7 linked regions of the Homo sapiens genome follow. The gene in region 6 interacts genetically with the main gene of each other region. Each region holds a gene or a part of one and is shown on either strand. Other genes may lie near its edges.

What was found.
Region 1: changes in SPPL3 (region 6) and ZNF714 together harm fitness less than expected from each alone (positive genetic interaction), as found in Homo sapiens cells (one large-scale study listed by BioGRID).
Region 2: changes in SPPL3 (region 6) and CA4 together harm fitness less than expected from each alone (positive genetic interaction), as found in Homo sapiens cells (one large-scale study listed by BioGRID).
Region 3: changes in SPPL3 (region 6) and TSR1 together harm fitness less than expected from each alone (positive genetic interaction), as found in Homo sapiens cells (one large-scale study listed by BioGRID).
Region 4: changes in SPPL3 (region 6) and NDUFA8 together harm fitness less than expected from each alone (positive genetic interaction), as found in Homo sapiens cells (one large-scale study listed by BioGRID).
Region 5: changes in SPPL3 (region 6) and NOA1 together harm fitness less than expected from each alone (positive genetic interaction), as found in Homo sapiens cells (one large-scale study listed by BioGRID).
Region 7: changes in SPPL3 (region 6) and LRTM2 together harm fitness less than expected from each alone (positive genetic interaction), as found in Homo sapiens cells (one large-scale study listed by BioGRID).

What each region holds. Positions count from the first base shown.
Region 1 is NC_000019.10:21,095,703-21,099,202, reverse strand, and holds part of ZNF714 (zinc finger protein 714), read right to left. Parts: intron 1,019-3,500; 5' UTR 935-1,018; coding exon 892-934; intron 392-891; coding exon 293-391; intron 1-292. UniProt on the Homo sapiens protein: May be involved in transcriptional regulation.
Region 2 is NC_000017.11:60,152,973-60,156,472, forward strand, and holds part of CA4 (carbonic anhydrase 4 preproprotein), read left to right. Parts: intron 1-2,341; coding exon 2,342-2,395; intron 2,396-3,500. UniProt on the Homo sapiens protein: Catalyzes the reversible hydration of carbon dioxide into bicarbonate and protons and thus is essential to maintaining intracellular and extracellular pH. May stimulate the sodium/bicarbonate transporter activity of SLC4A4 that acts in pH homeostasis.
Region 3 is NC_000017.11:2,326,458-2,329,957, forward strand, and holds part of TSR1 (pre-rRNA-processing protein TSR1 homolog), read right to left. Parts: intron 3,019-3,500; coding exon 2,886-3,018; intron 2,754-2,885; exon of another isoform or gene 2,668-2,753; intron 1-2,667. UniProt on the Homo sapiens protein: Required during maturation of the 40S ribosomal subunit in the nucleolus.
Region 4 is NC_000009.12:122,149,780-122,153,279, forward strand, and holds part of NDUFA8 (NADH dehydrogenase [ubiquinone] 1 alpha subcomplex subunit 8), read right to left. Parts: intron 2,630-3,500; coding exon 2,466-2,629; intron 1-2,465. UniProt on the Homo sapiens protein: Accessory subunit of the mitochondrial membrane respiratory chain NADH dehydrogenase (Complex I), that is believed not to be involved in catalysis. Complex I functions in the transfer of electrons from NADH to the respiratory chain.
Region 5 is NC_000004.12:56,967,607-56,971,106, forward strand, and holds part of NOA1 (nitric oxide-associated protein 1), read right to left. Parts: intron 910-3,500; coding exon 778-909; intron 1-777. UniProt on the Homo sapiens protein: Involved in regulation of mitochondrial protein translation and respiration. Plays a role in mitochondria-mediated cell death. May act as a scaffolding protein or stabilizer of respiratory chain supercomplexes. Binds GTP.
Region 6 is NC_000012.12:120,765,185-120,768,358, reverse strand, and holds part of SPPL3 (signal peptide peptidase-like 3), read left to right. Parts: coding exon 1-34; intron 35-765; coding exon 766-965; intron 966-1,986; coding exon 1,987-2,096; intron 2,097-3,174.
Region 7 is NC_000012.12:1,819,161-1,823,364, reverse strand, and holds the start of LRTM2 (leucine-rich repeat and transmembrane domain-containing protein 2 precursor), read right to left. Parts: upstream 2,801-4,204; 5' UTR 2,551-2,800; intron 1-2,550.

The sequences.
Region 1 (3,500 bases), on a different chromosome or scaffold from region 6:
CTGTCTCAAAAAACAAAACAAAACAAAACAAAAAAAAACAGTGTTTTTCAAAATTATGCAGATATTTGTGTGTTCACCCAAGGAAAAGGAAAATTCTTAGAGAATTTAAAAGCATAAGACAGAAGATGCCCTTTAGTGAGAGAAAATTTTAAGAAAATATTCAGTCTTCCCAGAAACTATATACTTTGCAAAACAGCTTCCCAAATCACATTGTAAGGGCCGGCTTGCTTTTTTTTTTTTTTTACCTTTGTACCTCTCATCTGTGTCATCTGTTGTGTTCACTCTCACCTACCTGGGGATTCATCCACCATCTCACATATCTTCATATTCCAGGGCTCTTTTTCTTGCTCTAGACTGGTGATCGGGTCTTGCTTAGAGACAGCAATACCTGCTTTATTAAAAGTAAATAGCATAAATCTTGCTTATATTCTCTAGTTACCAACCTAGTACTGTGCTCAGTAAAAAGGATATAATAGAATATTTTAGAAAATTAATCCTAAAATACTAATTAATGAGACACATCTCTAACTATTTAGAAAATATTTTAAATTTGTAGGTCCTTAATTTCACTACCTGGTACTCATGAATCAAAAATTGACAGTGGAAAATAGATTTTAAGATACGGGCAATATTTTATGCCACCAAATTTCTGGAATTACCACTAATCTAGAGTGAAGGATGCAGATCAGCTCAGGAATGTGGAAAGTTCAGGTCAGGATGAAACATGTTGAAGAAATTCTTTTCTACAGAGACAAATCATCAAGATTTTCTTGAAAACTGGGATCAGAAACTCATTTATACAAAGCATAAATTACCAAAGAAAATTCTACAAAAAAAGAGACATAAAACGTTTAGGGTATATTAAGACTTATGTATTAAAGTTATTCTCACCCAAGAAGACCAGGTTTTTGTAGTTCTCTAACATCACATTCATATATAAATTCTGCTGAGCAGGGTTCAGGCATTCCCACTCCTCCAGAGAGAATTCTATGGCCACATCCCTAAATGTCAACGTCTCCTGAAAAACACATACGCACAGACACACGTATATTTACCAAGTGGCCATGGGCAGAATTTATTATTTGAATTAAGGTGAAATGAGAGAGTAAAGAGAATTGGTTGACTTATAAGAATAACTGAAATTATCCAATAATTTTTAACACAGAAATATTCTCTAATGTATTACTCTGAGGGCAGAGAATGGCATAAGATCCACAACACCAGTGCATATATAATACTTTTCTGGATGATAAAGAATATAATTAAGGACACAAACGTATACATTTTTGAGTGCTATATTTACATCATAATGAGTTGTGTATATTTTTCAGACAAAAAAAGACATGTTGAGTTAGATGGTACCTCTCAAATTTAAATATGTACAATAAACTGGAGATCCTGTTGTGAAGCTTTTTTTTTTTTTCCCCAGAAGATCTGGAATAAAGTCTGAGTTTTTAAAATTCTAACAAGGTTACTAGCAATGCCAATGTTTTTGACCCCAGAAGACTATTTTGTCAGACATTCAGTAAGTGAAAGAGATTGTGTTTTTCCCAACTTTTTTGGTCTGTAAACAAAGATAAGAGCCTTCATTTTCCAAAGACACATATGTGCAAAAAACAAACAAAAAAACCTAAGAAAAAAGGGCAGGTGCCAGATTAAATGTGATAGTTTATTAGCTACATAAAGATACTTAACAATAAAGAGAAAAACAATTAACTCTATAGTGAAAAAAAGTCAGAGAGCTCTTTAACCAAGCAAATTATTAACATCAACAACACTAGAATAAATTTTTATGATGTGCTGATGCACAAAGAAGAACACAACATCACTGCTGAGATATTGCCCCTCAAAAAGTCAATTATAGACTGAATTTAACCATAAAGAAAAAATCAGTTTCATGCGAAGGTCAAGATATCTCCCATGTTCTATAATTTTTAGTAATGATTTTAAGTAGTCCTTTCTTTAGCATCCTAGAAAGCAGGTATCTCTGAATAATTTTCTCCAGAACTTCCTGGGTAATAAATGCTATCCTGAACAGGCCGGGCGTGGTGGCTCACACCTGTAATCCCAGCACTTTGGGAGGCTGAGGCAGGCGGATCATGATGTCAGGAGATCAAGACCATCCTGGCTAACACAGTGAAACCCCGTCTCTATTAAAAATACAAAAAATTAGCCGGGTGTGGTGGTGGGCGCCTGTAGTCCCAGCTACTTGGGAGGTTGAAGCAGGAGAAAAGCATGAACCCAGGAGGCGGAGCTTGCAGTGAGCTGAGATTGCGCCACTGCACTCTAGCCTGGGCAACAGAGCGAGACTCTGTCTCAAACAATAAAAATAAATAAATAAATAAATAAATGCCATCCTGTTTAAATAAGCATATTCTTAATCCTGTTCTGCATAGAGCTAATGGAGAACACAAGCGACACCTCAACATTATATGTTCTCCATCTTTACTAAGGACCCCAGCTTTCCCCCAATAGGAATCTTGAGTATCCACATCTTCCCATGTTCAGCAGCCACAAAAGGAACACTTTTAATATGGCAGATCATAAATTCATGGTAGGAATTCTGCATTGCATATAAGAAGCCATGATGTAGAGAAGGCTCTCGTACATAGGATAGAAATATTTTTTAGAGATCCTTGACTATCACAAGAATTTTTAAAAGTATGTGAAACAAAATCATTGGGGAGGGAAAACAGAAGTAGAGAAGTAAAGGTTTGCAAGTACTAAACTCATGGCACTCCAGGAGGCAGAGTGGACACAGCTCTTGATCTGAGATATGTTTAGCTGAAAAGAAGCATTTTTCCTCTTTCTCCTCCTCTAGAAATCCTTTTCAGATAAAATTCTCTGGACAAGTAACACCTGCATCTTGAGACAAGTCCCTTAAAGGCATCAGCACCACCTGCTTACCTACTAGCCTCACACTCACAGACAGAAGGACCAAGACCAAAAAGTCCACTCATCTTTCTCCTTTATAACAGAAGAGATTCAGGAACAATGAGTTGCTCCACGGAAATAAAAATATATGTTCCTCTTTTACCGTCCACAGGTGCCCTCCCCTGCCACAGACACCAACAATTTCTACTACAGTAATGAAAATATGAAAATATGGGCCACTGCCCTGTCCCTACCAAACCCAAACAGAACAGGTCCTGAAGCCACCCTTTAGTGCAAATGTGGCACTTAACTCTCAGGAATGTATCTTGAAGCCTTCATACTTGATTCTGGCCTCACCATAGAGTCATATGAGGCCCTGGAGTTTCACTGTCTTACCACACGTATCTACATGTATCATGATGAAGATACCAAAAGCAACTGCAACAAAAGCAAAAATTGACAAATGGGACCTCTTGGGGTGATCAGACCCAACATCAGGTCGTGGGGGTGACAAAGTCCGGTGGAGTCAAAGGATTGAGAAAAAAGACAGTTTGAGATATAAAGGTGGGACACCAGGCTAGGCGCGGTGGCTCACGCCTGTAATCCCAGCACTTTGGGAGGCTGAG
Region 2 (3,500 bases), on a different chromosome or scaffold from region 6:
AGACCCAGACTTGGGAAGGTCCAGATACTCCGATATCTGGAGAGCAAAGGCATTCCTAATTTTGCTTTAAAAATAATAATGTTGGCTGGGCACGGTGGCTCACACCTGTAATCCCAGCACTTTGGGAGGCCGAGGCGGGTGGATCATTTGAGGTCAGGAGTTCGAGACCAGCCTGGTCAACATGGTGAAACCCTGTCTCTACTAAAAATACAAAGATTAGCTGGGCATGGTGGTACATGCCTGTAATCCCAGTTACTCAGGAGGCTGAGGCAGGAGAATTGCTTGAAACTGGGAAGTGGAGGTTGCAGTGAGCCAAGAGCCCACCACTGCCCTCCAGCCTGGGCAACAGAGCGAGACTCTATCTCAATAATAATAATAATATCAATTCTTGGATAATGTAGTAATTAAGAAAATTAATCCTTTATCACAAACCCTTGTAGCAGAGCACATGTCCCCATATATACAACGCATTGAATGCATTCCTTCCTTCTCTGACTTTTGGGAATGTCCTACTCTGTCTATGGAGTAGCTGTCCTTTCACCACTGTACTTTCTTAATAAACGTGCTTTTCCTTTGCACTGCAGACTCAACCTGAATTCTCTCTTGTGCAAGATCCAAGAACCCTCTCTTGGGGTCTGGATCGGGACCCCTTTCCTGTAACATGCCTTCTGTCAGAGGAAGATTATGGGACTCAGAATGTCAGATAACTCCCCTGTGGAGACTGAGCAAAGGCAGAGCGGGAGCTGGAGGCTTCGGAGCTCTGCCCCACTGCTGGGGTGGCGAGTGGCCACTGCCCTCTGCAGAATCCACCCACATGGGGGTGGTTCAGGTGCAGCAACTCCCAGGGACAGCAGAGCCCTGCCCGGGGCTGGGGATGGGCCATCAGGGGGAGGACACTGCAGCTCTGAAAAAGGCGATGCCAGCAGGGAAGGAGAGGCAGTGATCAGGGCAGGGAAACTCCAAAGCCCAAAGCAGCTCTTCGTGGCCAGTTAGTTTTCCTGGGGATGCTCCCTCATGGCTCCTTCCCCATCCTGTCCCCACTCCGGGGACTCTACCCTGGCTTAGACTACAAGAAGATGGGACTGTGGGGGCAGCCCAGGCAAGAAGGGAGAGGGTGGATGAGCTCAGAGACCTCAGCTTTGGCTGAGTGGGAACCGTGCTTTTCTTAGGAATTTCCTCATCTTGATTTCTTTCCAAGTCACTTCATTTCTCTCCTCTCTCGGCCCCTCCTTGGCTTTGGCCATCTGCTCCCAAAAGGAGGCCATGGGGTGGGTGGGAGGGGTGGGGGGGAGGGAAGGAGTTGTCGATGGGATTTTACTAAGTGCCAAGCCGCCTGAAACCTCATTTAATCCTCCCCAAGGCCCTATGAGGTGGGTATGTTTGTCTCATGTTACAGATGATACAACTGAGGCTCAGAGAGCTTAAGGGACTTGCCCCCAAACCCATCTAAGCCCCCTGAGCGGCTCAGCCAGAATTCCAAGCTCTGGATGAGATGTTGTGTTCGCCCTGCTGGTGCAGCCTTTTAAAAAAATTAATAGACTTTATTTTTAGAGCAATTTTAGGCTCACATAAAAATTCAGCAGGAAGTACAGAGGGTTCCCATAGGCCCTTCTGCCCTGCATGCACTTTCCCCTCTTATTAACATCTTGCATCCATGTGGGACATTTGAGGTGCAGCCTTTTTTTCAGAGATGCTGGGTTCTATTGCCCTGAGGCAGAGCCCTCAGCCTGTCCCCAGAGATCAGGACTGTGCGGTTGAGGGGCAGGGGAGGAAGCCTGGCTGCTTTCCTCCTAGCGGGAGCTGTGAGACGCTAGCCAAGAAGGGATCTTAGTAACACAGGGTGAGACATTCTGGGGAGGGGCCGCCTAATCTCCTCCCTCATCTTGGATCTGGGAAGGCTGCCCGGTTGAACCTGACTCTATTGTCCCAGGAGCGGAGGCTGGGCCAAGTCCTCCTCTTCTCCTCTCACCAGCCTCTTTTCCAGGTTTGGGGTGGGGGAGGTAAGCGCGGAGGAGGCTGCTGGTGACCAAAGGATGGAGTATCCAAGCCAGCCCCATGTTAGAGATGAGTGGCCTCAGAGGGCTTCCCTGGAGGGCCAGTGGCTGCTTGGCCTGGCCCTGCCTGGGGAACAGAGCCCTATGCCAGCTGACCTGTTGATCAGCCCCTGCTTGGTTTTCAATTGAGTCTCTTTTTCTGGGCCCTCAATCCTGCTGCCAGGAACACTCCATCCCAGCCCAAGAGGGGCTCCAACCCCAGGGGTAGGCCCAGCCTCTGATCCTCCTGTGTGTGTGAGCAACAAGACACACGCACGCACACTTCACACCCTTCCTCTCTGCTCCAGAGTCACACTGGTGCTACGAGGTTCAAGCCGAGTCCTCCAACTACCCCTGCTTGGGTGAGTACAGCCAGTCCAGGGGACTGCTCTTTGTGCATGGTGGGCACCACGCAAGCCGAAATGGAGACCCCGGAAGAGTGGGAAGGGGAGGGGTGATGGTGGCTTCCCAGGCAGATATCAGTTCCCAGCATACACACACACACACACACACACACACTCTCTCTCTCTCTCTCACACACACACACACACAGATATACAAACACACACACTCACACAGAAACACACACACAACACACACACAAGCACACACTCAAACACTCACACTCACACATGCACACACACACTCACACTCACACAAACCCACACTCACTCACACACACAAACACACACTCACACTCTCCTGTCCTGGTGCTCAGGGACCAGGGAGCATAGAGTGACCTGAGTCTTCACTGGCACCTGCTGTCATCGAGAGGGCATGTTCCCTGTGGAATAAATCGGTAGCAGCATTAAAGGAAGAAAGGCGTTTTGCTGTTTCCCATAATAAAACGGGGAGTTGTTTCTATCCCAGTGACACCCCTTGCAGGGTGCCTGAGTGATGGTCCTTTACGCTTTTATTTGAATGCTGACCAATTCGAATGCAAACCCTGCAGTCTGCTGTGTTTTGGTGACTGAGCAGTGCTGCCCGCTCCTGACCCTGGCCCACCTGGTGTTGGGGTCACCAGGGTTCGGGGAACCAGCTCCTCCAGGGTTACTCCTCTCCCTCCCATTCCTCAGATGATGCTCAGCGCCCTTCATCAGCAGCCCCCCCGGGGGTCCCACTCCACAGTTTCCAAAGCCCTCTCCATCCACCTCCTTTAAACTCTCTGACATCCCAGGGAAGCGGATTATCTCTGCAGTTCCCATTTTACATTTGGGAAACCCAGGGCTTGGAGAGGCCATGTGCACCACCTCATGAAGTTGTCCCTACCCCGGAGCTCACAGTCAACAGTTGGCAACCCTGTTCCCACCCTGTTCCACACTGGGGCTAGACTCCCCAGCCTTGCATGTATGTTTCTGTGGAGGAGGAGGAGGAGGGCCCAGGGAGGGCGAGAGTGGAGTTCGGAGCTGAGCATCCCTGCAGCACAGCCTTCAGGCCACCCCAAAGCGTTTCTGTGTGGGAACTGAG
Region 3 (3,500 bases), on a different chromosome or scaffold from region 6:
TTACCCAACTATGAGCCATACCCAGCCTCCATTCCTTCACCCACACTGCCCTTGGCACACTAGACATCAAAGTTTCCACACTTTATCACACCCTTTTAAATTCTGAGAGACAGTGTCTCACTCTGCTATCTAGGCTAGACTGTATTTGGTGTTCTACCTTCAATGTAGCCCTCACCCCCCTTTTAAAAATACTAAACTTATAGGAAAATAAAATATTTTAAGGGCTGTGGTGTGAACACAGCTCACTGGAGCCTCAAACTCCTGGGCCCACTGGCTCAGGCAATCCCTCTTGCCTCAGCCTCCCAAGTAGCTGGGACTGCAAAGCACATGCCACCACACCTGGCTAATTAAAAAGAAAAATTTTTGGCCGGGCGCAGTGGCTCATGCCTGTAATCCCAGCACTTTGGGAGGCCAATGCGGGTGGATCACCTGAGGTCGGGAGTTTGAGACCAGCCTGGCCAAGATGGTGAAACTCTATCTCTACTAATAATAGAAAAATTAGCTAGGCATGGTGGTACACGCCTGTAATCCCAGCTGCTTGGGAGGCTGAGGCAGGAGAATCACTTGAACCTAGGAGGCAGAGGTTGCAGTGAGCCAAGATCCTGCCACTGCACTCCAGCCTGGGCAACAAGAGTGAAACTCCATCTCCCAAAAAAAAAAATTTTTTTTTCGTAGAGGCCGGGCATGTTGGCTCATCCCTATAAATCCCAGCACTTTGGGAGGCCAAGGCACGTGGATCACCTGAGGTCAAGAGTTTGAGAACAGACTGGCCAACTTGGTGAAACCCCATCTCTACTAAAAATACAAAAAGTAGCTGGGCGTGGTGGCAGACACCTATGGTCCGAGCTACTTGGGAGGCTGAGGCGCCAGAATCACTTGAACCTGGGACGGGGAGGCTGCAATGAGCTGAGATCATGTTACTGCACTCCAGCCTTGGTGACAGAGTTGGACTCTATATCAAAAAAAAAAAAAAAAAAATTGTAGAGACCGGAGTCTCACACTCCTGACCTCAAGCGATCCTCCTGCCTCAGTCTCTGCAACTGAGACTTTTATTTAGTTCCAGTTCTAAGGATCTGCCTTTACAAAATAAGCAAAGAAGTAAATAAAGTTTTATGCATACAGATCTAGTTTAGAGCAAAACATTAGAAATAGCCTAAGTGCTCACCCGTAGAAGCTCAAATAAGTATCAGTACATCACATACACTGGAATATATCCAAATGACAATAAAGCATTAAAAGTCTCATTAACTAATTAATCTTATGGAAAATTGATCAAAATCAATTAAGTGATAAATGCAATGTTTAACACCATATTTACAATTACAATCCAAATTGTGTAAAGAAAAAAAATGAGATCTGGATGAAAATGTATAAAATAAAAATGAATTTTCTCTAATATAAGGTAATTTTACTTTTACATTATTCCTTATTTTCCCAACTGTATAAAATATGAAAATAGTTCATCCTAAAAAAAAAAATCAAAACCATTTTGAAACAATAAAAGAATGACTGGCCAGGCGCAGTGGCTCACGCCTGTAATCCCAGCACTTTGGAAGGCCAAGGCAGGAGGATCGCCTAAGGTCGAGACCAGCCTGGCCAGCATGGTGAAACCCCGTCTCTACTAAAAATACAAAAATTAGCTAGGCGTGGTGGCGGGTGCCTGTAATCTCAGCTACTCGGGAAGCTGAGGCAGGAAAACTGATTGAACCTGGAAGGCAGAGGTTGCAGTGAGCCTGGATTGCACCATTGCACTCCAGTTGAGCATCAGAGTGAGACTCGGTCTCAAAAAAAAAAAAAAAAAAAAAGAGGCCAGGCACATTGGCTCATGTCTGTAATCCCAGCACTTTGGGAGACCGAGGTGGGCGGATCACCTGAGACCAGGAGTTCAAAACCAGCCTGAACTCCTGGTCTTGGTGAAACCCCATCTCTACTAAACCCCAACATGGTGAAACCCCATCTCTACTAAAAATACAAAAATTAGCTGGGCATGGTCGTGCATGCCTGTAGTCCCAACTACTCTACTCGGGAGGCTGAGGCAGGAGAATTGCTTGAACCCGGGAGGCGGAGGTTGCAGTGAGCCGAGATCACGCTATTGCACTCCAGCCTGGGCAACGGAGTAAGACTCCGTCTCCAAAAAAACAAACAAACAAACAAACAAAAAAAAACAAAAAAAACAAGAGGGGGCGCGGTGGCTCACACCTGTAATCCCAGCACTTTGGGAGGCTGAGGCGGGCGGCTCACGAGGTCAGGAGATAGAGACCATCCTGGCTAACACGGTGAAACCCCGTCTCTACTAAAAATACAAAAAATTAGCTGGGCATGGTGGCGGGCGCCTGTAGTCCCAGCTACTTGGGAGGCTGAGGCAGGAAAATGGTGTAAGTAAACCTGAGAGGCGGAGCTTGCAGTGAGCCTAGATCGCGCCACTGCACTCCAGCCTGGGCGACAGAGTGAGACTCCGTCTCAAAAAAAAAAAAAAAAAAAAAAAAAAAACAGAAACAAAAACAAGATTAAATCTTACCTTTTTTGGTCTTCAATTCCCCGTTCTAATGCCACAAGTGTTGGGATTACAGGTGTGAACCACTGCACCACTGCACCCACCCTAATACCCTTTTTATAAAGCTGCCAACTTCTATTCAAAACCTGCTATGGAACAAATACTCATGGCAAAAAAGCCTCAGTATCACACAGAAGTTGCATCACTGGGATGCTTCAGACAGGTTCAGACATTTTGAATAAAAACATCATTGGCTCTTAAGCCAGAGTACTGAAAATACCTCTAACCCAGAGATGTAAGATTTTGAAACCATATATTTTGGCACCCCTCCACCACAAGTCACTTTCCCAAAAGACAAGATGGACAAGAACCCAGCTTCCCCATTGCTAACCTGCAGTGTGCTGAGAGAATAAAGGTGAGGCTCGGAAGCGCCTGAATCCACAGTGAAATATGAGCTCTTCCTTGGCTTTCACAGGTTCAGTGTTGCCAGGGTCACGCCTCACCACCATATTCAATACTGACATCTGGGGACCAAGTAAGAAAAACAAAAATCTTCATAGTCTAGGAATACAATTGCCTAAACTGAAAGAAGGCAAACCAAACTAGCAGATTCAGACTCATTCTAAGAACTGACAATGCTAATTAATGGTGGAGTGTAGATGCTGAAACACGGGTTCATCCTTTACCTCCACCAATGACTGGCATTTAAGCCAAACACAGGCTGATCAGAGCTTTCATGCACCCTTCAATGCTAACCTACCTTCCTGCACCTAACAGAAAAGAGCTCAACATCTGCCACACAAAAATCAGTGGCCTTCAAGGCATTCACTCACCACAATCTCAAAACCACACTCATTCAAGCCCCTTCTTCTTGAGCCCTTACCAAAACCGATCAAAGAACTATCACATACCCCACAACATACACAACTACTGGCCACCAAGAGAAAAGAGATCTGCACTTTGGCATAAACTTTTTTTTTTTTTGACATAAGAGTTTCGCTCTTGT
Region 4 (3,500 bases), on a different chromosome or scaffold from region 6:
AAACCCCATCTCTACTAAACATACAAAAATTAGCCAGGCAGGTGGCACACACCCGTAATCCCAGCTACTCAGGTGGCTGAGGCACGAGAATCGCTTGAACCCAGGAGGCAGAGGTTGCAGCGAACAAAGATCACGCCACAGCACTACAGCCTGGGTGACAGAGTGAGACTCTGTCTCAAAAAAAAAAGAAAAATTGTTTAAATAAACACACACACAGACTCAATCTCGCTGGCAATCAAATCAATGCAAATTGAAACATCCAAAAATATTTGCACCTCCCAAATATTTAAATACTATGCATACCAGAATCCAGCGCTGAGGACAGCATAAATTGATCCAACATTTAAAAAACAAAAGCATTTGCTGGGCACGGTGGCTCACGCTTGTAATCCCAGCACTTTGGGAGGCCAAGGCAGGTGGATCACGAGATCAGGAGATTGAGACCATGGTGAAACCCCGTCTCTACTAAAAATACAAAAAATTAGCTGGGCGTGGTACTGGGTGCCCTATAGTCCTAGCTACTCGGGAGGCTGAGGCAGGAGAATGGCGCGAACCCGGGAGGCGGAGCTTGCAGTAAGCCAAGATCGTGCTACTGCACTCCAGCCTGGGCGACAGAGTGACACCCCATCACAAAAAAAAAAAAAAAAAAAAAAAAAAAGCAATACAGTTCAAGAGCCATAATGATGTTCAAAGCCCTTTATAGAGTAAACTCACTGTTAGGAAATTTATGCCAAGGAATTATTAACTGATGAAAATGATCTATACGCAAAGGTAATCACTGCAGATTTATCCAAAATAATCAAAAACTGAAATCAACAATGATGTTCAATAACAGGAATTGGTCAGGTACGTTATGGTTGGTTTATCCACTGATGGAATAATATATAACCATTAAGAATGATGATCACGGCCAGGTGCGGTGGCTCACACCTGCAATCCCAGCACTTTGGGAGGCCAAGGAGAGCGGATCACTTGAGGTCAGGAGTTCAAGACCAGCCTGGCCAACATGCTGAAACCCCATCTCTACCAAAAATACAAAAAAATTAGCCAGGCATAGTGGCGCAGGCCTGTAGACCCAGCTATTCAGGAGGCTGAGACATGTGACTCGCTTGAAGCCAGGAGGCAGAGGTTGCAGTGAGCCAAGATCACACCATTGCACTCCAGCCTGGGCAACAGAGTGAGACTCCGTCTCAAAAAAAAAAAAAAAAAAAAAAAAGATGATCATGAAGACTATATAGCAACTTCGAAGAGTGTTTCCAATAATATCAAGTGAAAAATGAATTTCTCAATGTATACATACTATGATTATAACCACAAAAATATCTTTGCATAGGGACAGAGACAGCAGAAGCAAGAAAGGAGGAAAGCAGCTACTGTGCTAAGGTATCTATTTTTTTTCTCTAACTTCATTGTAGTGGACATCGGTGGTTTCTGCCTAGCCAGCAGTCATTCCCCATTCTTCCGTAACATCCTTCTAATTTTCCTTTGGGAACAACCCCTCCCTGTCTCTCAGCAATGTGGTTTGGATGAAGCTAAGTCCACTCCCCATCTCAGGCCTGAGCAATCAGAGCTTTTTATCTCCTGAAGCACAAGTGATGCAATGATATGTATACGAAGTCCGCCAGCCAGGACAATTAGACTCAGTCCAGGAGCTTCTGCTCACTTCTGGATAAAGGGCACACTTTGTCTAGGTTTGCTAAGCAAGTATCAACAGAACAGCAACTCGAGTGGCTGGTGGCCATTTTTGGTACAGCAAGGTGAGAGTCTTTCCAAAATGAGGTCAACAGAGAAAACCAGAACTAAGAGATTGTGAAAAGAGGAGAGGCAAAAAGACATCAAGTAGTTGTGAAATTATTTAAGCCCTTGAATCCAGCCCTGCCTGATGCCAGGCCTATTTCTGGACTTCAGAGTTACAAGAGCCAATTTCCTTTGAGTTGACTTTCTCTCCTTTTAAATAGAGTGCTAATATGCTTGTTAAAACATTTTCCTACAATTACACAGCTTAGTTTTTTTTTACTTAAGTATCATGCACAATGACCTACGTAAAACCTAACTCCGCATACAGTTTTCTTTCCATCATACCTGTGTTCTGTAGTAATGACAACAACCTAGTGAATGCCTGCTTAAAAAGGACTGTGATAGGTTGTTTTACGTGCCTTTTCAAATTTTTCACAGCAAAAAGACTTTCCCCTTGCTGTAGCAAAAATGGTCACCAGTCACTTGCTTAGCAAACCTAGATAGGTATTATTTTACAATTTGGAAACTGAGATTCATGGAGATAAAAGAACTTGCCAGATAATAAAAACAAAACCAAAAATAATTATCATCCTTTGAATGTTTTACCTTGGTCTGATTTCAAAGCCTATGTACTTCCTAATAAAATCCAGATTATTAGCTGGCTGTTCACTTATTCATTTAAACCTTTATGCTTCAACCAAGTAGGCACTGATACCAAAGATTTTTACCTAAAGAAGTCCAAAGCACACTTGTTGACCAGTTTGCCTTCCTCTAAACACCGCCTCGGATCTTTCTCTTCCCAGCGGCAGAGCATAAACTCCTTGTTGGGCTTATCACATTGAGCTCCATAGTGATGGGCCGCAGCTTTAAGCACAGCAGAACTAATTTTCACCTAGGAAAGGAAAGATGGGACAAAGGCCACAGACTGTGAACCAGAATACCACTTTCTCAGCTTTACCTCATGCGGGTCAGAATAGAGAACACAAAAGTAGCACTGTTCTGACTTTACCAAGAAAATTAAACACTGTCATAATAATAATTTTTTTTTTTTTTTTTGAGACAGGGTTTCACTCCCATTCCCCAGGCTGGAGTGCAGTGGCGCGATCTCGGCTTACTGCAACTTCGGCCTCCGAGGCTCAAGCGATTCTGCTGCCTCAGCCTCCCAAGTAGCTGGGATTACAGGCATAAGCCACCTCGCCCAGCGATTCTTTAAAATCTATGGTGATTTAGAGAACGCAAAGCTCTTTCACATATATTATTTTCTTCACTTTTACAATAGTCTCATGAAGAGATTAATATTCCCATTTTAGAGCAGAAGAAATGGCACCCCTAATAGAATCTTTATTTATGGTAGAGAGAAAAGGGGTGTAGAGAAGGATGGAGTCTTCTGGGATGCAGGGAGAGGAACCAACTCTGGAGAGCTTTGCTGAGTTTCTGCTGCTGGAATAAAATTAATAGATATATAAGGCTGGGCACAGTGGCTCATACAGGTAATCCCAGCACTTTGGGAGGCCAAAGCAGGCAGATCACTTGAGGCCAGGAACTCAAGAACAGCCTGGCCAACATGGTGAAAGCTTGTCTTTAGTAAAGATACTAGAGATGTATCTGGGCGTGGTGGTGCACACCTGTAATCCCAGCTACTAGGGAGGTTGAGGCATGAGAATTGCTTGAACCCAGGAGGCAGAGGTTGCAGTGAGCCAAGATCATGCTACTGCACTCCAGCCGGGGTGACAGAGCAAGACTCTGTCTCAAAAAAAAAAAAA
Region 5 (3,500 bases), on a different chromosome or scaffold from region 6:
TTTAGCAAAATGGAGAGCAATTCTATAGACACTCCAAAATCCCTAGATGCTATATAAACGAATACCAAACAAAAACGTGTATGCATAAAAACACACATATCATGGTATACAAAGTGTGGAATTAATTTAACGCCTATAACCCTGTACCTAAAGGTTTGACTTTATCCCATAGGTTTGACTCTATCCCATAGAATAGGGATAGTATCTTGTCTTAAATGCCAAGCTGTGTAGGGTACTCAATTGAAAACGTAAGTTTTCAAGACCTAGCACTTTTTTGGGGGGATGAGGGAGTAGGGCATTTCTTTTCCCCAAGTTTTTTTTTTTTTTTTGATATGGAGTCTCGCCCCATCACCCAGGCTGGAGTGCAGTGGTGCAATTTCAGCTCACTGCAGCCTCCGCCTCCCAGGTTTAAGTGATCTTCCTGCCTCAGCCTCTCTAGTAGCTGGGATTACAAGTGTGTGCCACCACGCCCAGCTAATTTTTGTATTTTTAGTAGAGATGGGGTTTCACCACGTTGACCAGGCGGGTCTTGATCTCCTGGCCTCAAGTGATCAGCCTGCCTCAGCCTCCCACAGTGCTGGAATTACAGGTGTGAGCCACTGTGCCCAGCCATCCCCAAGTTTTTATTACAGAAATTTTTAAACATAAAAACAAATTAAACCCAATACAATCATGGCTTAGTTATCAACATTTTGTCAGTCGTGTTCATACATCTGCTTCCTTAAAGTGAATCCCAATATTTTAAAATCATTTTTTAATAGTACAGACTTTTCTTACCTGCAGGAAATCTATGCGGCCTATAGCACCCAAAAACAGAACCATTCCTGGTTTAAGCACAAAAGTTCTTGGAACAATGGACTGTGTTGGCAAAACAATATTTACTTCTTTTTCTGTTAGAAGATTTAAAATCTGTGAAGCAAATGGCAGATTTTTAAGAAAATACTTTTATTGAAAATATGATATATTATGATTTACCCGTAAAATAAAAAGTGATGAAAAATATGCCAGACTTCAAAATAAACCAAATTATGTCAGAGTTTGCTATGCATCAAATTTATATAGATTCTTCCTGTCTAAATTAATTTCAATCTGATGGCTCTACCCTTGTTTTACAACTTAATCTACAGTAATGGCAAAATAACTTTATAGGTGTATGAGACTTTCCTATGTCAGCAGCATTCCCTAAATGTCAAAATTAATGTGAACCTGAAAACATGTTGATTCAATACCAAGATAGAAAATATATGCTCTCCTTATCAAGGCTTGTGGGCAGTAGCAATTTCCGCTTAAAGTAATGGTATACGTGACCTTATGTCCTAGTGGTAAGTATGCATGCATTAAATGCAAAATGGTCACCCCATTCTAGGAGCAAGTAAAGTGGCTGAAGAACCTCTTTCTAAATTCTGGTCTTCAATTTCCTTATTTCTCCCAAATATTCAGCAGAGAATGAGAAAAAGTTATAAATCCCCTATGCTTATAACACAGAGGATTTATAATTTATCCCTATGATTTATAATAAATCCCTTCTAAGGATGACAAGTTCCTAGAGAGACTAGAGAAAAATAGAAAAGGAAAGACAGAAGTACAAGATTCTGCAAAGATTTAAGGAATCAAAATCTGGTTAAAAAAGAATAAAGAAGGTACAAATTGGACACAAAACTTGTAAACTTCTTTCTTAACAAGAGGCTGGGCGCGGTGGCTCACGCCTGTAATCCCAGCACTTTGGGAGGCTAAGGCGGGCAGATCACCTGAGGTCAGGAGTTTGAGACCAGCCTGAACAACATGGAGAAAGCCCATCTCTATTAAAAATACAAAATTAGCCGGGCGTGGTGGCGTGCACCTGTAATCCCAGCTACTCGGGAGGCTGAGGCAGGAGAATCACTTGAATCCGGGAGGCGGAGGTTGTGGTGAGCCGAGATTGCACCACTGCCCTCCAGCCTGGGCCATAGAGCAAGACTCCGTCTCAAAGGAAAAAAAGAGAATAACAAGAAAATAAAAAATAGAAATGATACATAGCAGCTCACAAAAAAATAATAAGGGGGCTGCAGATAGTTTTCTTCATTATTTGTGTTTGAAAAGGCACATTAAAAGCCATTTGCAGGTCAGCCATGGTGGCTCATGCCTGTAATCCCAGGACTTTCAGAGGCAGCGGCAGGCAGATCACTTGAGCTCAGGAGTTTTTTTCTTTTTTTGAGACGGAGTCTTGCTCTGTCACCCAGGCTGGAGTGCAATGGTGTGATCTTGGCTCACTGCAACTTCTGCCTCCCGGGTTCAAGCAATTCTCCTGTCTCAGTCTCCCAAGTAGCTGAGATTACAGACGTGCGCCACCATGCTTGGCTAATTTTTTTGGTATTTTTAGTAGAGACGGGGTTTTGTCATGTTGGCCAGGCTGGTCTCGAACTCCTGACCTCAAGTGATCCACTTACCTTGGTCTTCCAAAGTGCTGGGATTACAGGTATGCACCATTGTGCCCAGCTGAGCTCAGGAGTTTGAGACCAGTCTGGGCAACACGGCAAAACCTCACCTCTATGAAAAATACAAAAATTAGCTGGGGTGGCGTGTGTCTGTAGTTCCCAGCTACCCTGGAGGCTGAGGTGGAGGATTGCTTGAGCCAGGGAGGCAGAAGTTACAGTGGGCCAAGATTCCACCACTGCACTCCAGCCTAGACCAGACTGGGCAACATAGCGAGGTCCTGTCTCTACAAAAACTAAACAATTAGTTGGGCATGGTGGTATGTACCTGTGGCCCTAGCTACTTGGGAGGCTGAAGTGGGAGAATTGGTTGAGCCCAGGACTTTGAAGTTACTTGATCACGCCACTGCATTCCAGCCTGGGCAACAGGGGAAACCTTGTCTCTCTTTTTTGTTGAGACAGGGTTTCACTCTGTTGCCCAGGCTGGGCTGCAGTGGCATGATCTCGGCTCACTGCAACCTCTGCCTCCCAATAAGTGTATCAAGTGATTCTTGTGCCTCAGCCTCCTCAATAGCTGGGATTACAGGCATGTACCACCATGCCCAGCTAATTTTTTGTATTTTTAGTAGAGATACAGTTTTGGCATGTTGCCCAGGCTGGTCTCAAACTCCTGGGCTCAAGCAATCCTCCCACCTCGGCCTCCCAAAGTGCTGGGACTACAGGTGTGAGGCACTGTGCACAGCCTGAGTCTTAATACTTTCATTTCACAACAGAGATCCTTGGTTCAGTCTGGGAAACCCTGGTTTAAGACATCAAATAAGTTTATCTGTAAACTAACAGAGAAGCAAACTACCAGTGCTGACAGACGTTTATATCTAAAAATTTGGGGTTCTCATTCTGCTGTCTAGAGTATTTTGCAAATTCTTGCCTTTCTGACACAACTATTTAATAGAGGATATATGACTGAAGTAACTGCTATGCCTGATCTAATAGCATCTGAAAGGGAAGAATTAGTCTGGGCGTAGTGGCTCCCATCCACAATCCTAGCACTTTGGGAGGCTGAAGTGGGTGGATTACCTGAGGTGAGGG
Region 6 (3,174 bases):
GCCTGTCTCTGCCTGGAAAACTGGTCTTCCCAAGGTAAGACCTCATGCTATGACAGGACCACACTGTCTTCCTGTGCCTATCTGTTCCCGGCCTTGATCAGTCTCTAATGTCATCAGCATTCTGATCCCAACCTGGGGCCATTATCTCCATGCTGCAGAAGAGGAAATGAGGATGAGATTCTTGGCTTGCCAAGAAGGATCACTGAGTGATCCAGGCGGTGCCTTTTATTATTGATTAATGTCAGCAAACAGCCATGCCTTACTGCTGTTTCCACTGTTTAGAGTTGGCTGGAGGGAGTTAGGAGAATCTCGATCCTTTTAACTTGTAAGATATTTATAAAAATAAGTTCTAATGGTAGAATTATACAACTCCTGGTAATATAATCTTGGCAGAATGAATGTGCTGCTTTAATCTTCCACCTGTAATAGTAGCCAGGTGCTTATTTGAAGTCTCAACAGTGAATGTGTCACAAATGATGAATTGTTTGACATTTCTAGAGGAAGCAGCACTTATGCAAATCACTTCAGCAGTCACTTCCAAGGGGCTCTCCTGAAACAGGGGGGCCAAGGTGGAGACCTCTAGTGCCAGTACTGTTGCAGCTTTTTCTCTCTACACTCTTAAAACTAATGTTCCATCAGAAGAGATTTCCATCTGCCATGCAGATAAGCTCTTTGACTCCTTAAAAAGCTAACAAACTTTGCACAAAAGGAATAGAAACTGGATTGTAGAGTGTGACGTCACTAACCTGTGAAACTGCATTCCAGCTCCACTGGCAGCCACTTCTCCATGTTGGGCATCGGAGACATCGTTATGCCTGGTCTCCTACTATGCTTTGTCCTTCGCTATGACAACTACAAAAAGCAAGCCAGTGGGGACTCCTGTGGGGCCCCTGGACCTGCCAACATCTCCGGGCGCATGCAGAAGGTCTCCTACTTTCACTGCACCCTCATCGGATACTTTGTAGGTAAGAGAACCAGAGAGACTGCAGATGATCCTCGCTCTGGCTGTCCTCCAACCTTTGGAATTAAATCAGGTCTTCTAGCTACAGTTACTGGATGGAAGGAGAGCAGGAATTCTGGGTGCTGTAATAGACAGCCTGGCCCGTGAGATGCTAAGTGTTTTGTGTACTGGATAGGCCAGTTCCCTCTCCAGCTGTGTATCTGAAGAACGTTGTAGGAAAAGCAGGTCAGTCCTCAAAGCCAAGGACACACAGCACACAGTGCAGTGGATTAGTCTGTGCTTAAATCTTCCTCTAGAGTTGAATGACTGTCGTATTTATTTCCTACTTTATTCAATAGATACTTACTTACATTCATTAGTTCTACATTTCTGCCACTCTGACCTAGGCCAAGTTTTGTAGCCAGCTCATGTGTAGGCAGACAGGAGATGATTGTGATGGGGCTGGGAAAAGCAGTAACCTGCCCGCACATGCAACTGCTCCCGCACAGTGACTGGAAAGGAGCTTTTGCACTCCGTACGTCCTCCTCAACCCCAGCACTGTCCTCGTCCCACAGCAGTTCATTCACATGGGTTCATTTCAGTCCACAAACTCAGAGGGGCAAGGCAAGTGGCATTATCCCCATTAGACAGATGAGCAAGCTGAGGCTCAGAGAGGTGGAAGGTCTGAACTACATTTATGTTAGCTATTGTGAGTAGCAGAGTTGGAACTTGAACCCAGGTCTTCTGCCTCCCAAGTCCAGCATCACAGGAGACAGAGGCACACTTGGAGCTGGAAGGAGGGTTTGAACCCAGGAACCTGAGCAAGGAGTGAGACTTGGGTCAGTCATGTGTCCTTGGAGTTGTAGGTGTTTTTTAAAGCTGTGCTGATCCACATTTCTTCAACTGCCCAAGCTGGGCATTTCACACCCCAACCATAGAATGGACGACAGCACATTAGATCTGTACAGTTGCAGGACTTTGCCCAGCAGCAGCCAGGTGACACGGGTTCCCTCTCGTGTCTCACAGATGCCTCTCTCTCCTCACAGGCCTGCTCACTGCTACTGTGGCGTCTCGCATTCACCGGGCCGCCCAGCCCGCCCTTCTCTATTTGGTGCCATTTACTTTATTGCCACTCCTCACGATGGCCTATTTAAAGGTGAGAGCAGCAGTTATAAACCTGTGAAAGCAATAACTTGGATTGGCCTGTGCCTCGGTTTGCACTCTCCTCGCTGGAGGTGATTCTGCTTAAGCCCCTGAGTGAGCTTGTGATCTCGACTGTGTGTGTGTGTGTGTGTGTGTGTGTGTGTGTGTGTGTGTGCGCGCGCGCGCTACCCTGGCGTTAGCAAACGCTTCCAGATTCGTGCAGCCACTGACAGAAAATGCTGATGAGCTAGACCACTACACCACCTGGTCGAGGAATAACTAATTGAAAGCCCCAGAGCCCAGCTGAGGGTACTTCCTGCTTCTGTTCAAAGCAGTGCCCTCCTGCCACCTAACAGCTTAACACTACGTTAAAGTTTGGGAATAATTAAGATTGAATAGTGTTGAGGCAGCATATGATAAAACCAGAGTTCAAGAGCACATTATTTCCCAGATATCTATTCTCAGCCCCGTTTTACAGATGAGGAAGCAGATACAGAGGTCAACTTACTTGCCCAGCTCACTTGACTCACTACCTCTAGAGAGTTGATAAAAGCCCTTTTCTTGCTCAGGGAGCCTAAAAGCACCCCTTCTAGGGAGTCCTCCTAAAAATAGTGGGTTATTTTTGAATGGGTAAGATTTAAATGCTCTTTGGTTTCCCACAGAAGCAATCTGATCTCAGATCAAGCATCAGAAAGGGGCCAGGGGCATGGTGGCTCACGCCTGTAACCCCCGCACCTTGGGAGGCTGAGGCAGGCGGGTTAAGAGTTCAGGACCAGCCTGGCCAATATGGTGAAACCCTGTCTCTACTAAAAACACAAAAATGAACTGGGCATGGTGGTGAGTGCCTGTAATCCCAGCTACTCAGGAAGCTGAGGCAAGAGAATCGCTTGAACCCAGGAGTCGGAGGTTGCAGTGAGCTGAGATCTCGCCACTGCACTCACTCCAGCCTAGGTGACAGAGTGAGAACCCATCTCAAAAAAAAAAAATATCAGAAAGGGGCCAAGCGCAGCAGCTCATGCCTGTAATCCTAGCACTTTGGAAGGTCGAGGCAGGAGAATTGCCCGAGCCCAGGAGTTTGAGACCAGCCTGGC
Region 7 (4,204 bases), about 120 Mb from region 6:
TCCATGCACCTGCCCCTTCCATTTCTCCTCAGATGGAGGTTAATTAATCAGTCTCAGACTCTAGCTAGAAACCTCCAGCACACTCACCACAGACCTGGTGTCCGCACCCTTCCTCTCAGGCTTCTGCGCATGTCTATCCCTCCACATCAAGCATCCAAGACACACAGCCAGATAATGCCCATCGGGCCTCCACCTCTGAATTCCTGACTCCTGGGCCATCACACTAGCCCTAGGGTGTGCCCACTCCCCTGGCATCTCCCCTTGGTCAAGAGTCCATACCCCTCAGCATGGAAGAGTCACAGAACTCAGGGGTAAAGGGGGCATTTGCAGCCTACTCTGCCGCCCCCTTCACTCTGCAGAAGGCCAGAGAGAAGCAGAGCCACGACTGGGCCCACACCCTGGGCCTGCAGGGGCCGTGCCCTTCCACCAACCCCAGGAAGGCTGAGAGGGAGCCCGGAGAGTGGCCAGCCAGAGCCCCGGGCCAAAGACGGCCCGAGATTCCATGTGGCCAGGACGCAGGGGAGGCTGCCACAGCCGTCTAGGCTGGGCTCCGCCTACCGCTGCCTGTCTGGGCACCCAGGCCCTCTAGGACAGCTGCCCATCACCCCCATCACACACACTGCCCAGGCAGCAAGGAACCAGGTTTTAAAAATCTCTATATTTGTACTTGGAACAGCCATATACCCTCCTGGTTCATTTTAAAACACATGCCCCATCCTCACCCCCAGCCTCCTGCACCCCCGTTTCCTTGTCAAATATTCTCAATCTCAAACAGACCCTCTGGGAAGCAGAACAGAGAAGCCTCCTGAGTGGCCCCTCATGGGAGCTGGTCCCTGACATGAAGGAGGCTAAGGTGTCCACTGGGCCCTGGGGCCGGGCTCAGGGTGGTGTCCCTGGGGCTGGGCTCAGGGTGGTATTCCCAGGCAGGGCACAGGAGGCTTGGCTGGGGGAAAAAGGAGGAAGACCAGAGGGGCAGACAGCCTCTATGCTGGCTCCTTTCTCCTCTGCCCACCCCCAGAACTCCCAGACACCCCCAACCATCACATACATGCCATCCCCTCCTCCTTCCTACACTGCCCACTGAGGCCATAGCAGCCCAGAGGCGGCCCCTGGGCTCTGGTGCCTGGGAAACGGGAGCAGAGTTTGCTCCTCGTGGGCCCAGACAAGCTTCTGTCAAACCCCAAAGACACCAGATCGGCTGCTTAAGCAGCCTCTCTCCTTACCCCTCCCCGCGGGCCTGGCTTTCCTGGTCTCCCTCTTTTGGCAGTGCTGAGACTTTCTTTCTGCCGGTGGGGAGGTGGGGGTGGGAAAAGCTGGGCTCTTCTTGGCAGCTCGGAAGCTGCTGTCGGGTTTCCCTACCAGCTGGACTTCCCCCGCCTCAGCTCCACGTGCTCGGCTCCCTCCCCGCCCCCACCTGAGGCAGTTATCTAAGCTGCAGGGGTGTCATCTGAGTCACAAAGAGACACTGCCCAAGTAGCCCTGACAGCCGGGTGCCAACACCCCCCAGAAATGTGGACAGCTTGGGGGTGGGGGAGAGACAGGGCCGCCAACTGGAACCCAGCCCCAGACCTGCAGGGAGGTGCAGGAATGTGAACTTCCGACTCCTGGTCAGGCTGCTCCTCTCTCCAGCACTGTCCAAATGGGTCTGGGGGATTGAGAGCAACTGTCCCGCTCTACTCAGGGTGTCCATGCCCCCTGTGTGGGTCAAGAAGCCAGGCAGGCCTGGCCCCGCTGTGTACCCCCCACCCAAGCTCAGTGTCCAGCCCCCACTAAGGCTCCCTGACCCATTTGCAGATGGACGGCTGGGTGCACAGCTGCGGGACACCCCAGCAGGTTCTCGCGGGCCTGGTTCTCCTGTCTTGCCCTTGGGCTAGCAGGGAAGGGCTGCGATACTTCTCTCTCCTGCCCACTCCCAGCCTCACCCTCACCAGGGAGGCTTCATGCACAGCTGAGTGGGCCCATGCTCATCTGGGGGAGGGTTCCTCCACACCCTTGTCCAAGGACAGCCACCTGCAGGCAAGCTATAGGGAGGCCCAGGACCTGGGTCTGTGCCCATGCCTCTGACATCCAGGACCTCCTCCCTGCCACCCTCCACCCCAAGCCTTCCTCTGACCTGGCCCTGTCCCCAGCACCTGACTGCCATCCCAACCGCTTCCCATGACCCCCGAGTTTCTTGGGGCTGTCTGTGCAGAGCCGGGCACAACGACAGCACAAGGCTCTTGGCTGCTTCTCCCATGCTGCAGGGACCGGTTTCTATGCCACCCGGGACTGTCATCTGGCGCCAGCGCTGCCCTCCTCCCCACTTCCCAGCAGAATCCACAGCTCTTGTCCCCAGCACTGTGGGCTCAGAGTTCCCAGTGTCGTGCACCTTTGGGATGCTCAGGTGCCTGAGCCCGAGCAGCTTCTTCGGCCCCAGCAATTGCCTGCAGGTAGGAAGCAACTGCAGCTATTCCTGCAGGGCAGAGATGGCCGGTGCCCACTTCCCATGCCCCGACCACCCCCTGTCCCCACCAACCCTCCATTCCTTCCTACCAGCCACTCGGTACTCACCCGTCTTTACTCTGACTGCAAACGCCTTCAATCAGGTGGCTCTCAACCCTCCAGTAAGACCCTCCTGGGATTCCTATAGAAATCCAGACACCACCGGCAGGCAGAGCGCAGTGGGCACTGGTGCCAGAGTCTCCACTCAGCGGGAGCAGCGGCTGGCACGCAGCACACAGCACCAGGAGGTGGACTGCTTGTGGCAGACGGGGGACGGGGCTGCTGGGTCAGTCACAAACTGAGAAGGAAAGAGAGGGATGGAGGGAGAGAGAGAGAGGAGAGAGGGAAGAAAGGGGCGAGGGAGGAGAGCGCACGCGTGTGCGCGAGCAGCGAGCCAGAGTGGAGCGGGGAGTGACAGCTGGGGTGCATCTGTGATGACAGCGGCAGCAGCACACACAGGCGCACACCAGAGGCACCACGGCCGGCCGCGAGGGCAGCGCTCACCCTGGCCACGCTCACATTTCAGTGGAAAAAGGCGCCTGTGGATGAATCGCTGCCGACCACAGGGAGGAGGAAAGCGGTTTCACCACCACCTCCATCTTCCATCCTGCGCCTCCAGGCTCTCCCTCACCCCCCCGGCTGCACCTGTCTTCTGTGCCTCTCTCCTCTCTTCCCCTCCATCTGGGGAAAGAGGGACAGGCGCAGACACAGAGCAAGCGGCTGACTTCTGTTCCGATGGAGGCCCCCCTGGGAAGCTGGTCTTTCTCCTGTTTTAGAGACATGCGAGGCAGAGTCTCCCATCCTGCCTGAGAGAAGGAAAAACCGAACCCTTCTCTCGGTCATACGAAAGAAGGGTACACAGGCATGTCCATGTGCCAGATGACCCTACAGGAAAGGGCCCTGAGCCCCCACAAAGCCAGGGATCACATGGTCATGCAGAGGTCACTGAGCCTCAGGGTCTGACCACCCGACGCCAGGACTACTTAGGGAAGCAGAATGCCAGAGTTGGCAGGCTGGGAGTTTGGGCACAGGGCAGCCTGCAGCAGCAGCCTGCAGACCGTTCTCAGTGCCAGGGACGAGCTTGGCTTCTCAGGGCTCCTTGCTCTTATCTGTGATGGGTCAGGCATGCGAAGGGAAGAGACTGTCATTCAAGAACTTGGAGGCCTCTTTCTTAACCAATCAGGACAAAGCAAGTCAGAAAAATTGATATCCTAAGAGATGGGAAGTGGCTGATCTGAAGGCCAAGTGAGTCAGGGACCAAGCTAGAGGGGAGCCAGGGCCCCACCAGCCTGGAGCACGAACCCTAAATCCCCCTTCCTTTGCGTCCACTGCCTGTAGACAGATGAAGCACCGTGCTAGCGATATATCACCGTGTCCTATGTCCCTCTTCCATTTTGCCTGCTTTGCTGGAGGGGTTCACAGCCAGGACTGGGGTGGGTGTAGAAGAACCCCCTGGACTCAGGATGCCCCTAGAAGGATGCTCCTGCTCACTCCCTTCTGTCCGTTCTGCCGGGTCCCCGGGCAGCACAAGGCTTGAGCTGCAGTGTCTTTTACCTCTGGGGAGTCCCGCCTCTGACCTCTCATGCTGGTGCCTCCCACACATCCCACTGTCAAGCAAAAGAGGCTCCCACCTCCCCATAAACATACTTCCTGCTTCTCCATCTCCATGAAAGCGTGTTCTTCCCTGGGCCTGAAATGCTCTCCTGCCCATGGGTGGCTTCCC